Homo sapiens: one gene and its partner. The protein of the gene in region 2 purifies or fractionates together with the protein of the main gene of each other region. This does not show direct contact. Each region holds a gene or a part of one and is shown on either strand. Other genes may lie near its edges.

What was found.
Region 1: the proteins of LLCFC1 (region 2) and CHST12 purify together in Homo sapiens (affinity purification with mass spectrometry; one large-scale study listed by BioGRID and IntAct). This does not show direct contact.

The regions. Positions count from the first base shown.
Region 1 is NC_000007.14:2,405,477-2,410,952, reverse strand, and holds part of CHST12 (carbohydrate sulfotransferase 12), read right to left. Parts: intron 1-5,476. UniProt on the Homo sapiens protein: Catalyzes the transfer of sulfate to position 4 of the N-acetylgalactosamine (GalNAc) residue of chondroitin and desulfated dermatan sulfate.
Region 2 is NC_000007.14:142,936,954-142,941,957, reverse strand, and holds LLCFC1 (sperm-egg fusion protein LLCFC1 precursor), read right to left. Parts: upstream 2,475-5,004; 5' UTR 2,337-2,474; coding exon 2,204-2,336; intron 1,607-2,203; coding exon 1,371-1,606; 3' UTR 1,090-1,370; downstream 1-1,089. Other genes in the region: KEL (kell blood group glycoprotein), read left to right, coding at 545-706. UniProt on the Homo sapiens protein: Sperm protein required for fusion of sperm with the egg membrane during fertilization.

The DNA.
Region 1 (5,476 bases), about 140 Mb from region 2:
TCCAAACCAGTCTCCCTGCTTCTGCTCTCAGGCCCACACAATCCATTTTCAACCCCAAAGCCACGGTTATTCTATTAAAAGTTGGATCAGTGGCTTCCTATCTCGAGTCCTTCTGATGGCCCGTGACCAGGACTCCACTGATCTCCTCTTCTATCACAGTCCCCCTCGGCGACCCTCTCCAGCCTCAACAGTCTCCTTGCCGTTCATCCACCGCACCCAGCAGGCTCCTGCTGCTGGGCCTCTGCACCACCATCCCTCAGCTGGGGAATCCCAGGGCAGTCCCACGCTTCCTTCAGATCTCTGCTTGACGCTCACCTCCTCAGCAAGCCTTCCCTAACCACCCTGAGAAAGTAGATCCCAGTCTCTACCCTGCACTCCCCATACCCTGGTTTTCTTCATAGCAGCATTTATCCCATCCCTACCTCAAATCTTTTATTTATTATTTTTAGAGTAGTGTCTCACTGTGTCACCCAGGCTGGAGTGCAGTGGTGCAATCGCAGAATCCCTGAACTGCTGGGCTCAAGCCATCCTCCTGCCTCAGCCTCCCAAAATGTCAGGATTACAGGCGTGAGCCACCATGCCTGGCCTCAAATAGCTCATATACACCAGTTAATCCACTCACTGTCTTCCTGCACTGACTTAAAAGGGAGGTCCTCGTCCTGCCTCACAGCGGGTATTCTCAAGGCTTACAGTAGCATCTGGCACTCAGTACTTGCTCAAGAAAGAGGTGATGTTCTAACAAAAACCAGACAAACTCTGATTGCCTAATTTCTGAAACTTGGGGACAGGTGAAGGATGATGTATAATACTGCTCTCTCTACTGGTCGGTATGTTTTAAAACCCCCTTGGAAAACGACGAAAGAAAGCGCTCGGCCGGGCGTGGCGGCTCAGGCCTGTAATCATAATTGCTTGAACTCAGGAAACAGAGGCTGCAATGAGATCATATCACTGCACTCCAGCCTGAGTGACAGAGTGAGACTCTGCCTGAAAGGAAAAAAAAAAAAAGTGCTCAGAATCTCTGATAAATGACCACAACGACGAGACAGCATACAGAGAACAATGACAATAACCAAGAGGAAATCAGAGCAAGGAAACCCTCCCTGTTAACAGGGCCTGTGCACAGAGGCAGGCGAGGGCCGCCATTCCATCAGAGCAGAAAGCCCATCTGAGACTGTTCCCATTTGGGTCAATTCAATGCCACACATACATATCCATGAAAGAGTGAAATCATTCCGTGAGGTGAAGTTTATTAAGAAACTCAACAGTCTCTGTCCCTGCTTCCCTTTCTCACCTCCGCCCTTCTCCATGATTCTTTTTTTTTTTTTTTCTTTGAGACAGGATCTTGCTCTGTCACCCAGGCTAGAGTGGAGTGTGATGGCTCGATCTCAGCTCACTAAAATCTCCACCTCCTGGGCTCAAGTGAAGTGATCCTCCCACCTCAGCCTCCCAAGGAGCTGAGACAGACACAGGCCACCATGTCTGGCTAATTTTTGTATTTTCAGTAGAGACAGGGTTTCGCCATGTTGCCCAGGCTGGTCTTGAACTCCTGGACTCAAGCAATCCTCCTGCCTCGGCCTCCTGAAGTGCTGGGATTACAGGTGCGAACCACCACGCCCTACCCGCTCCATAATTCTTTTTAGCTAATTCTTTTAATGTCTGCCTTCAGAGTGAACCTTGGTTGTTCAGCTTGGGGCATTAGCGACTGACTTCCCAAGGCGACAGGCGAAAATGCAGCGCTCTCCTCCCCACACCTTCTCTGCCCAGGTGCATCATAATTTCAATTAGAGCAGCAGTCAGTGTTTACATAAATTACTATCATTGCGGCGAGGCTATCCACAGCTGCGCCTTGTAGTACACCATAATTATTTTTCGTTTCCCGCACGATGGTTTATTTTCCCTGGAACTAATAACAGCCTTGTGTTTTCATTTGCTTTGTTTAGTACTTATCACTAATCCCGCCCCAACTCTGCCAACTGTATCAACTCCTCTCCAGATGCTGCAGCATGTCAGGTGTCCTGCTAATTTCATCTTCTCCCAAAGAATCTCCTCTTGGAGCCTCTGACCAGCTGGGGTCAGGACATGTCTGCTCTTCACACCAGCACCTGGCTGGGATTTCCCTTCAGCAGGTTCTTCTCACCTCTCACCTGGGGGAAATCCTGTTCCCACCAGCCAGTCTCTCTCAGTCTAGACTTACTGCCTCATCTGGGGAGACTACATCTGCCAATCACCTCCTTAAAGCATGAGGAACAAATCTGGGAGCAAGTCTGAAGTTGTCTTTACCCTACCCTCCCTTGCCTGAGTGTAGACTTCCAGGCTGCAAATGCATCCTTCAGAATTTCTCAAGCAAGGCCCTCCCGTCTCCTGCCACCCAGTGCTGCTTTGAAAAAGCCCAAGCCCTTCTGCTTCTTTTCATTTTAATTGTAGTTAGTTCTTCTGCCTTTTTCCACATGTTCTAACCTTCTGCCTCTTGACCTGTGATGACCTATTTGTGATTTGTTTTTACTTTCTCCTCTTGTTCTGAGATTTCACAACAGTATGTCCTGGAGAGGGTACGCAAGGATCTTTTTTTTTTTTTTTTTTTTTTTTTTTTGAGACGGAGTCTCACCCTTGTTGCCCGGGCTGGAGTGCAATGGCATGATCTCCACTTACCGTTACCTCCGCCTCCCAGGTTCAAGCAATTCTCCTGTCTCAGCCTCCTGGGCAGCTGGGATTACAGGCACCTGCCACCATACCTGGCTAATTTTTGTATTAGCCAGGGTTTCACTATGTTGGCCAGGCTGGTCTCAAACTCCTGGCCTCAAGTGATCCGTCCACCTCGGCCACCCAAAGTGCTGGGATTACAGGCGTGAGCCACAGCGCCTGGCCTCTGAACTCTCACTATCCAAATTCTGGGGTCAACAGCTGCAGACATGCTTTCAAATAAATCCTTCCCCTCCCAAGCTCTCACTAGTCTTTATCTGAAACTCAGCCTCTCTCACTATCCAAGTTTGCTGCCCAGACTTTTAATTTTTTAAATTTTATTTTTGAGACGGAGTCTCATTCTATTGCCCAGGCTGGAGTGCAGTGGCACGATCTGGGCTCACAGCAACCCCCGCCTCCTGGGTTCAAGCAATTCTCCTGCCTCAGCCTCCTGAGTATGGGATTACAGGCACCCACCACCATGCTTGGCTAATTTTTGTATTTTTAGTAGAGATGGGGTTTCATCATGATGGCCAGGCTGGTCTCGAACTCCTGACCTCAGTGATTCACCTACCTCCTAAATTGCTGGGATTACAGGCATGAGCCACCACACCCAGCCTTCCCAAGCTTTTAATATCCAAGCTGAGAAGTGAAGAGGCTATGAAAGTGAAGGATACCTGCATTTTCACCCGTGGTACTGGCCACTGGGTGAGCCTCTTTAACCCAGAAAGTTTGGGTTCTAGGAAATTATTTTGTGAATTTCATCCTGTTTTCCCTATTTTTTTCTTCTGGAAACTTTTTAAAATGTATTTTATTTTATTTTTTAGAGATGGGGTCTTGCTCTGTCACCCAGGCTGGATGGCAGTGGCATGATCACAGCTCACTGCAGCCTCAAACTCCTGGGCTCAAGTGATCCTCCCACCTCAGCCTCCCAAGTAGCTGGGACTACAGGTGCACACCACCACACCTGGCTAATTTTTAAATTTTGTTGTAGAGATGGGGGTCTTGCTATGTTGCCCAGGCTGGTCTTGAACTCCTGGCCTCAAACGATCCTCTCACCTCAGCTTTGAAGCTCTTACTATTCAGCTGCTGACTTCCTGATCTGATCCTTTCCGTTTCTTTTTTCTCTCATTTGCCACCTCGTTGCTTTTCTGTTCTACTTTCTGAGGGAGTTCCTCAACTTTATCTTTCACCCACTAACTGATTTTCTTATTTCTGCTTTTATTTTTTTTTTTTACATCCGAGAGTTCTCTTTTTGGATATTCGAATACTCCTTTTGGTGGCTTTTTTTTAGAGCTTCCTGTTCTTGCCTCATGTTCGCGATATTTTCGCTCACCTCCGCGTGGACATTAATGACAGCCTGCTTTCTAAGGCTCCTTCCTGCACGCTCTCTGGTTTCCCAGTGTGTATTCTGGTCTCAATCTCCTGTAGCAGAGGTTTTCTTCAGATGCCCTTGGTTATCTGCTCATATTTAAGGGATGGGGATTTTTAAAGCTTGATGCCTTGAACACTGGGAGGGGGTTATTAATGACGGGCTTCGTTAGCAAGGGATCCAGCTGGGTCTGCTGACTGGGGACCTCCTGATGTCATTAATTTTAGGTCTTTTCTCTTGGGCTACTCAGATTCCCCAAAGACACATCCATCCTCCTGTCTACAGGGAAAAGCCCCAGCTGGTCATGTTCTGGGAGCCAAAGGGTCCCTGTTCGCTTCCTCCTCCTGTGCCCTGTTCAGCACTGCGCCCCCACCCCATACTCAACCGCGCCCCCACCCCGTACTCAACTGTGCCCCCACCCCGTACTCAACTGTGCCCCCACCCCGTACTCAACTGTGCCCCCACCCCATACTCAACTGTTCCCCCACCCCGTACTCAACTGTGCCCCCACCCCATACTCAACTGTGCCCCCACCCCGTACTCAACTGTACCTGTCTCCCATTCTTCTCTGAAATATCTTTAAAGTTTCTAAACAGTTACAGAAACCACCACCTTAACAGCAGGAAGTAATAAGTTGGAGAGTCAATTATCTCCAGGCACATCTGTGGGCCAGGGCTGGAGAACCACAGTCCCGCCTGCAGCCACAGACCCACTAAGCAAGTGTGAAACTAACAGCTACTCTCCGAAAAGAAAGACAACTTAAGAATCGAAACTCAAGATGTACGGTTTTTTTAAATGACAAACAAGCCGCATGTGTTTCAGTATCATCAATAACCCGTCTTTTCCCACTGATGGCTCCTTCAGCCCCTGACCCACACTAGAAGAGAATCACCTGCCAGCCTCAATGACTGTGCGTAGTCAAGGAACTGCACGCCCAAGGTCAGCCAACCAACGGGCCTCTCTTCAGCTCTGGATCCCTTCCCACTGGGGTTCCTGGGGATTCCCTCCTTGTACAGGCTGTCTCTTCTCCACCAGGTCACATCTCCTCCAGGATGGCCACCAATACCGCCAACTCTGCAGGTCTAAAACCCACGTGTGTTTGTGTGGCCCTTCCTCTCCCACCTGGCCGCAGCGCTCCTCATCGCAGGTGAGAAGTCCCGGCTGCCCTCGCTGTTACAGGTCGCCACATCTCACAAAGCGCCACCGCCCAGTGGATTTGGCAACATCTTTCAGCTCCATGCCCGCCCCCACTCTCTCACTGCCCCAGACCCACGCCCCACAAGGCTACTCAACTCAGCTCCACTGCCCAGAGGCAAAACCCACCTCCCATATTCTCACCACGACCACTTTTCTGAAACACATCTAATCGCGTCGCACCCAAACCACCACCAAAGGGATAAAAGTTTAAACTCCCTCACACAGCAT
Region 2 (5,004 bases):
GGGCGCCTGTAATCCCAGCTACTTGAGAGGCTGAGGCACGAGAATCGCTTGAACCTGGGAGGCGGAGGTTGCAGTGAGCCAAGATCATGCCACTGCACTCCAGGCTGGGTGGTAGAGCAAGACTCAGTCTCACAAAAAAAAAAAAAAAGCCTGCGACAGGCTGACTGTGTGCCACATTCCTCTTCAGACACCTGACCTTAGGTGTGGCGCCCACTTGACATCACCTCCTTAAGCACCCTGTACTCCCTCAACAGACTCAGGTGCCAGGTCTTCAACACGCTTAGATTAGACTTCACCCCAGAGCTCCTGCGCTAGACCCTGCCTCTCTGTCATTGATAAATGGTATCATTACACAGCCCAGGCCCTCCTCCTGGACTCCTATTGCCAGATTAAATGAACTATACATTTCAAATGCTCCATGTGGCCCTTGGGGCACTTGATCCCCTGGTTCCCCTCTTTGTCTGCTGTCCCTGATCACCCCTTGTCACCGGGTCAGCTTTGTCCTGTGGACCCTCCCCCTTCAATGACCTCTCTTCCTGCTCAGGTGATGTGTAGGAAGCCCAGCCCCCAGGACTCTCACGACACTCACAGCCCTCCACACCTCCGAGTCCACGGGCCCCTCAGCAGCACCCCAGCCTTTGCCAGGTATTTCCGCTGTGCACGTGGTGCTCTCTTGAACCCCTCCAGCCGCTGCCAGCTCTGGTAACTTGGTTACCAAAGATGCCACAGCACAGAAATATCGACCAACACCTCCCTGGTCACATCCATGGAATCAGAGCAAGATTTCCTTTCTGCTTCTGTTCCAAAAATAAAAGCTGGCACTTGGCTTCCGCTTGTCTCTTAATGACTTGTTCCTGCTATGTTCTATGCCTGGAAGTCATTAACTGTACGGGAGAAAAATACCCTGAAGTTAGAAAAGATAAGAGGGAGAAATGCCAAAAATGTTTCATGGACACAAGAAAAGGAAAGAATCAACAATTGGTGACCTGGTGGGTTTGAAGGCCACCCAGTGGACCAAAGATTGGACAATAAAGCAGTCTAGTTGGAGACGAGAAGGGCTTGGATTAAGTATCGGAAAGCTGCTCCCAATTGTTCTCAGGATTTTATCGTTATTTTATTGTCATTGCCTCCTGCCTCTAATCTGCTGTCCTGAACAAAACCAGGAGAGGTGTGGGAGAGAAGGATGTGGGTCTGCTGTCTCTGGCCCTGGGAGATGAAACTCCGAACCTGGAGAGGCAGTCAGTTAGCACTGATGGCAACTGGTATCTCTGCTGCTGAACCTTGAGATACAGTGATGGTGATCAGAGGCAGAGAGCCATGCCTGCATCTCCTTTGGGAGTTGTGACCTGGAGCCCAGGAGGGAGGGAGGGTCAGTGAGTGAGCATGAAGCAGAGTTGGATATTTGGGAATGTCCGCCTCAATGGCCCTCCTGAGAAAACCATGACACTGGCCAGACTAAAGCAGAAGCTGAGGTGGAAAGAGTGCTTGTGAACAGCTGCCGTCTTGGACGACTGGTCTTCTTCCTGCTGGGCCATGTCCACCACCTGCCACATCTCACCCACTGAGGAGGCCACAAAGTGCTCTTCGAACTGTTCTTGATTCTGGTCTGGAACAGGGGAAAAGGACAAGGACTGAGCCCTGACCCTGGCCTGAACCAGAAAGGAGAAGTTAGAATAGGAAAAACACGTTGAAGCCTAGGGCTGCAGTCCCAATTGCCCATATCCTTAGCCTTCACCAGAGAGGGGATGCTCTTTCTAGAGGTTTTTTCTGGTCTGTGTTCAATCACAGCCCCAACTCAAACACACACACACACACACACACACACACACACACACACACACACACACACACCATTCCTAAGGTTAGCTGCCTCCTCTAGGGTTTCAACACTGGGGGAGTCAGGGGCCACCTTGAAGCATGACAAAAGCCAGCCAAATGCACCATGCTTACACACACAGAAGTTGCATGCAAGCTCAGCTGGCCCATGGTGAGCCGACACTATTATTTCACATGATAACCATCAGTGGCTGGAGTTACCCCCCATAAACCAGACCTATGTCAGGTCTCACCCTAGCCTCATCAGTGACCTGGGGCCTGGCCTCACACAGACCTCACCCTGAGCCTCCAGACTCTCCCGTCTTTTTTTCTACCTACCTGAAGAGGGTGTTTTCTCTGTATGGCTCCTGTCTTTTTTTCCACCTACCTGCAGAGGGCGTTTTCTCTGTCTGGCTCCCATCTTTGGGGCCTGGGCTCCCGTTCAGAGGCTTCACCTGCAGCAGCAGCAAGATAGGAACCAGGAACACTGCCCTGCAGAGCTGGGGGGCCAGGGGAGGCATGGACCTGCCCACCCACTGCCTTTGGCCGCCCCCTGCTCCCAGTGCCCAGCAGGATCCGTGCACCTCCTGCCCCATTCCTGTCCTGGCCCTTAACCCTTTCCAGGGGCATTTTCTCCCCTCACCTTCCATAGGACCTCTGACTTCACATGTTCTGTGACATCACAGCCATGGGCCTGAACTTCATTCCGGCTCACTAGAGCGTTCCAATGGCGAGGCACAAGAATGGAGCACAGCCAGCAGGGATGGCCGAGGCTTCCAAGATGACCACAGTGGGTCATTCTGTATTTAGCAGAAATGACTTAACAGCTTGCAATGTACATTCATATCCATTACACCATTAGATCCACGTAGAAACCAGGACTGCAAAATCATAGTGTTCTCATATCTATTACATTCATGAGGAAACTGAGGCTCACAGAAAAAATGACTCTCTCACTCAAAATCGCCCAAATACTAAGGGGCAGAAAAGGACTCTTGATTAACTTTTACTTTTAAATATGATATCTTCCCACTATTCTATGTGGCCTTTCTGTAACAAGAGTGGTTTGCATAGGATGAGGCCCAGAACAGATGAGCCGGACAGGATTCTCAAGTCGTGGGTATGAACATGCTGCTCTACATGAAGCATGGGTCTGCCAGAAAATAAAGATGGGGAGGAGCATAGGGTAAGGATGGGTAAAAGCACATGCTGTGTGTGTGTATAAAAGACACAGAGACAGAGACAGGCATAGACAGGCAGAGACAGACAGAGACATAGAAAAAGAGAGAAAGAAAGAGACCGAGACAGGCAGAAACTGAGGGGTAGAGACAGAGAGATAGAGACGCAGAGACAGAGAGACAGATGAAGAGAGAGTGAACGGAGAGAGAGCGAGAGACAAAGAGCAGGGTGCCTTGCAGCTGGTAGAGCCCATTCACACCCTCTCTTCACCCTCCCCTGGTTTTCCCACTTTTCTAGCCTTTGTCCTCTTGTACCACCAGGTTGAAACACCCTCTTCTTTCATTTTACACCTTTCTGTACTCTTAGACGAAAGAAAAGGTTGTTAGAGGCTCATCTCCAACCTCATTGCTTGGCAAAAGGAGTTAGAGTCTGCAGAGAAGCCGCAGTGCGGCAGGGAGTCTAGGATCCCAAATAACAGATCTGGGAGAATCCTGCCTCAGTACTTGGATGCGCCTCCTGCCCATGAGCCTGGTGAGCACAGATCTGTTGGCAGTAACCGGCTGTGGGTAATCACCCCCAACTGCTTCTTGGGCAGAGATGGTTGGAGGGTTGTGAGTTAGGGAGACAGAATGAAGGCCTTTTTTCGAAAACCAGCAACAGAGACATAGGCCATTAGATGCAGGATGGCTGCTAAGACAGGTAAGAGAAGACTTTAGTCACTCCTGAACTCTCATAACCAGTTCACACTGCTCCTGCTCATCCATGCATACCAGACCTGAATGAAATACCACATGCAGGTCCAAGGACACTGCGGAGACAGGCACCCTTTCTGCAAGAGGGAACTGCAGACAGAAACACACAAAGAGATGCTTTCCCACAGAGTTTACTCGTGTTAGCAGACATGCCCACATGGATGCTGTCTCACATACAGCAGACACCATCTCTTACACACTTCCTGATGGTCCAAGCCAGATGACAAGGGACTAGGGAGTGGTACGGAGGTCGCTTGAAGGTGAGTAAGGAAAGATTCAAGTAGGCAGGTGACCCTGCTCACCCCACCTTGAACCCATTGACGTGAGATCCAAAGAATGATGCTTGAATGGAAAAAACCATCACTAATCTCCTCCCTCCTGGCTATTTTGGGGGAGCAGCCTCTTGGTTTCCTGGCAAAAAGAGAAGCCATCTCCAGCTCTGTGGGAATGAATGGGGAGGGCGGCTGGGGTGAGAATTGCCTCCCGGGCAGGCTTGAGTGGAAATAACTGAGTTGTTTCCATTACTTCCATTTCCTTGCCACCACCACCCGCCTGACCTCCGCAGTGTTAAAAGAGATAAATTCTTGCAGAAAACAGGGAATCCCTTAAATATTTTTTCTTATTACAAAGTAGAAAATATAGAAAAATACAAAACCCCAAAAAGGCTAATAATTCCACCATCCAGTGATAATCACTTTTTTTTTTTTGAGATGGAGTCTCACTCTTGTTGCCCAGACGGGAGGGCAATGGCACGATCTCAGCTCACCTACAACCTCCACCTCCTGGGTTCAAGTGATTCTCCTGTCTCAGCCTCCCGAGTAGCTGGAATTACAGGCATGTGCCACCACACCCAGCTAATTTTGTATTTTTAATAGAGAAAGGGTTTCTTTCTGTTGGTCAGGAAGGTCTCGAACTCCCTACCTCAGGTGATCTGCCCGCCTCGGCCTCCCAAAGTGCTGGGATTACCGGTGTGAGCCACTGCGCCTGGCCACAGTTAGTTTTAAGGTATGGTATTTGAATCCTTTTCTTTCTTTCTATTTTTTTTTTTTTGAGATGGAGTCTCTCATACTGTTGCCTGGGCTGGAGTGCAAAGGCGCAATTTCAGCTCACTGCAACCTCCACCTCCCGGGTTCAAGTGATTCTCCTGCCTCAGCCTTCTGAGTAGCTGGGATTGCATGTGCCTGCCACCAGGCCCAGCTAATTTTTTTTTGTAGAGACGGAGTTTCACTATGTTGGCCAGGCTGGTCTCGAACTCCTG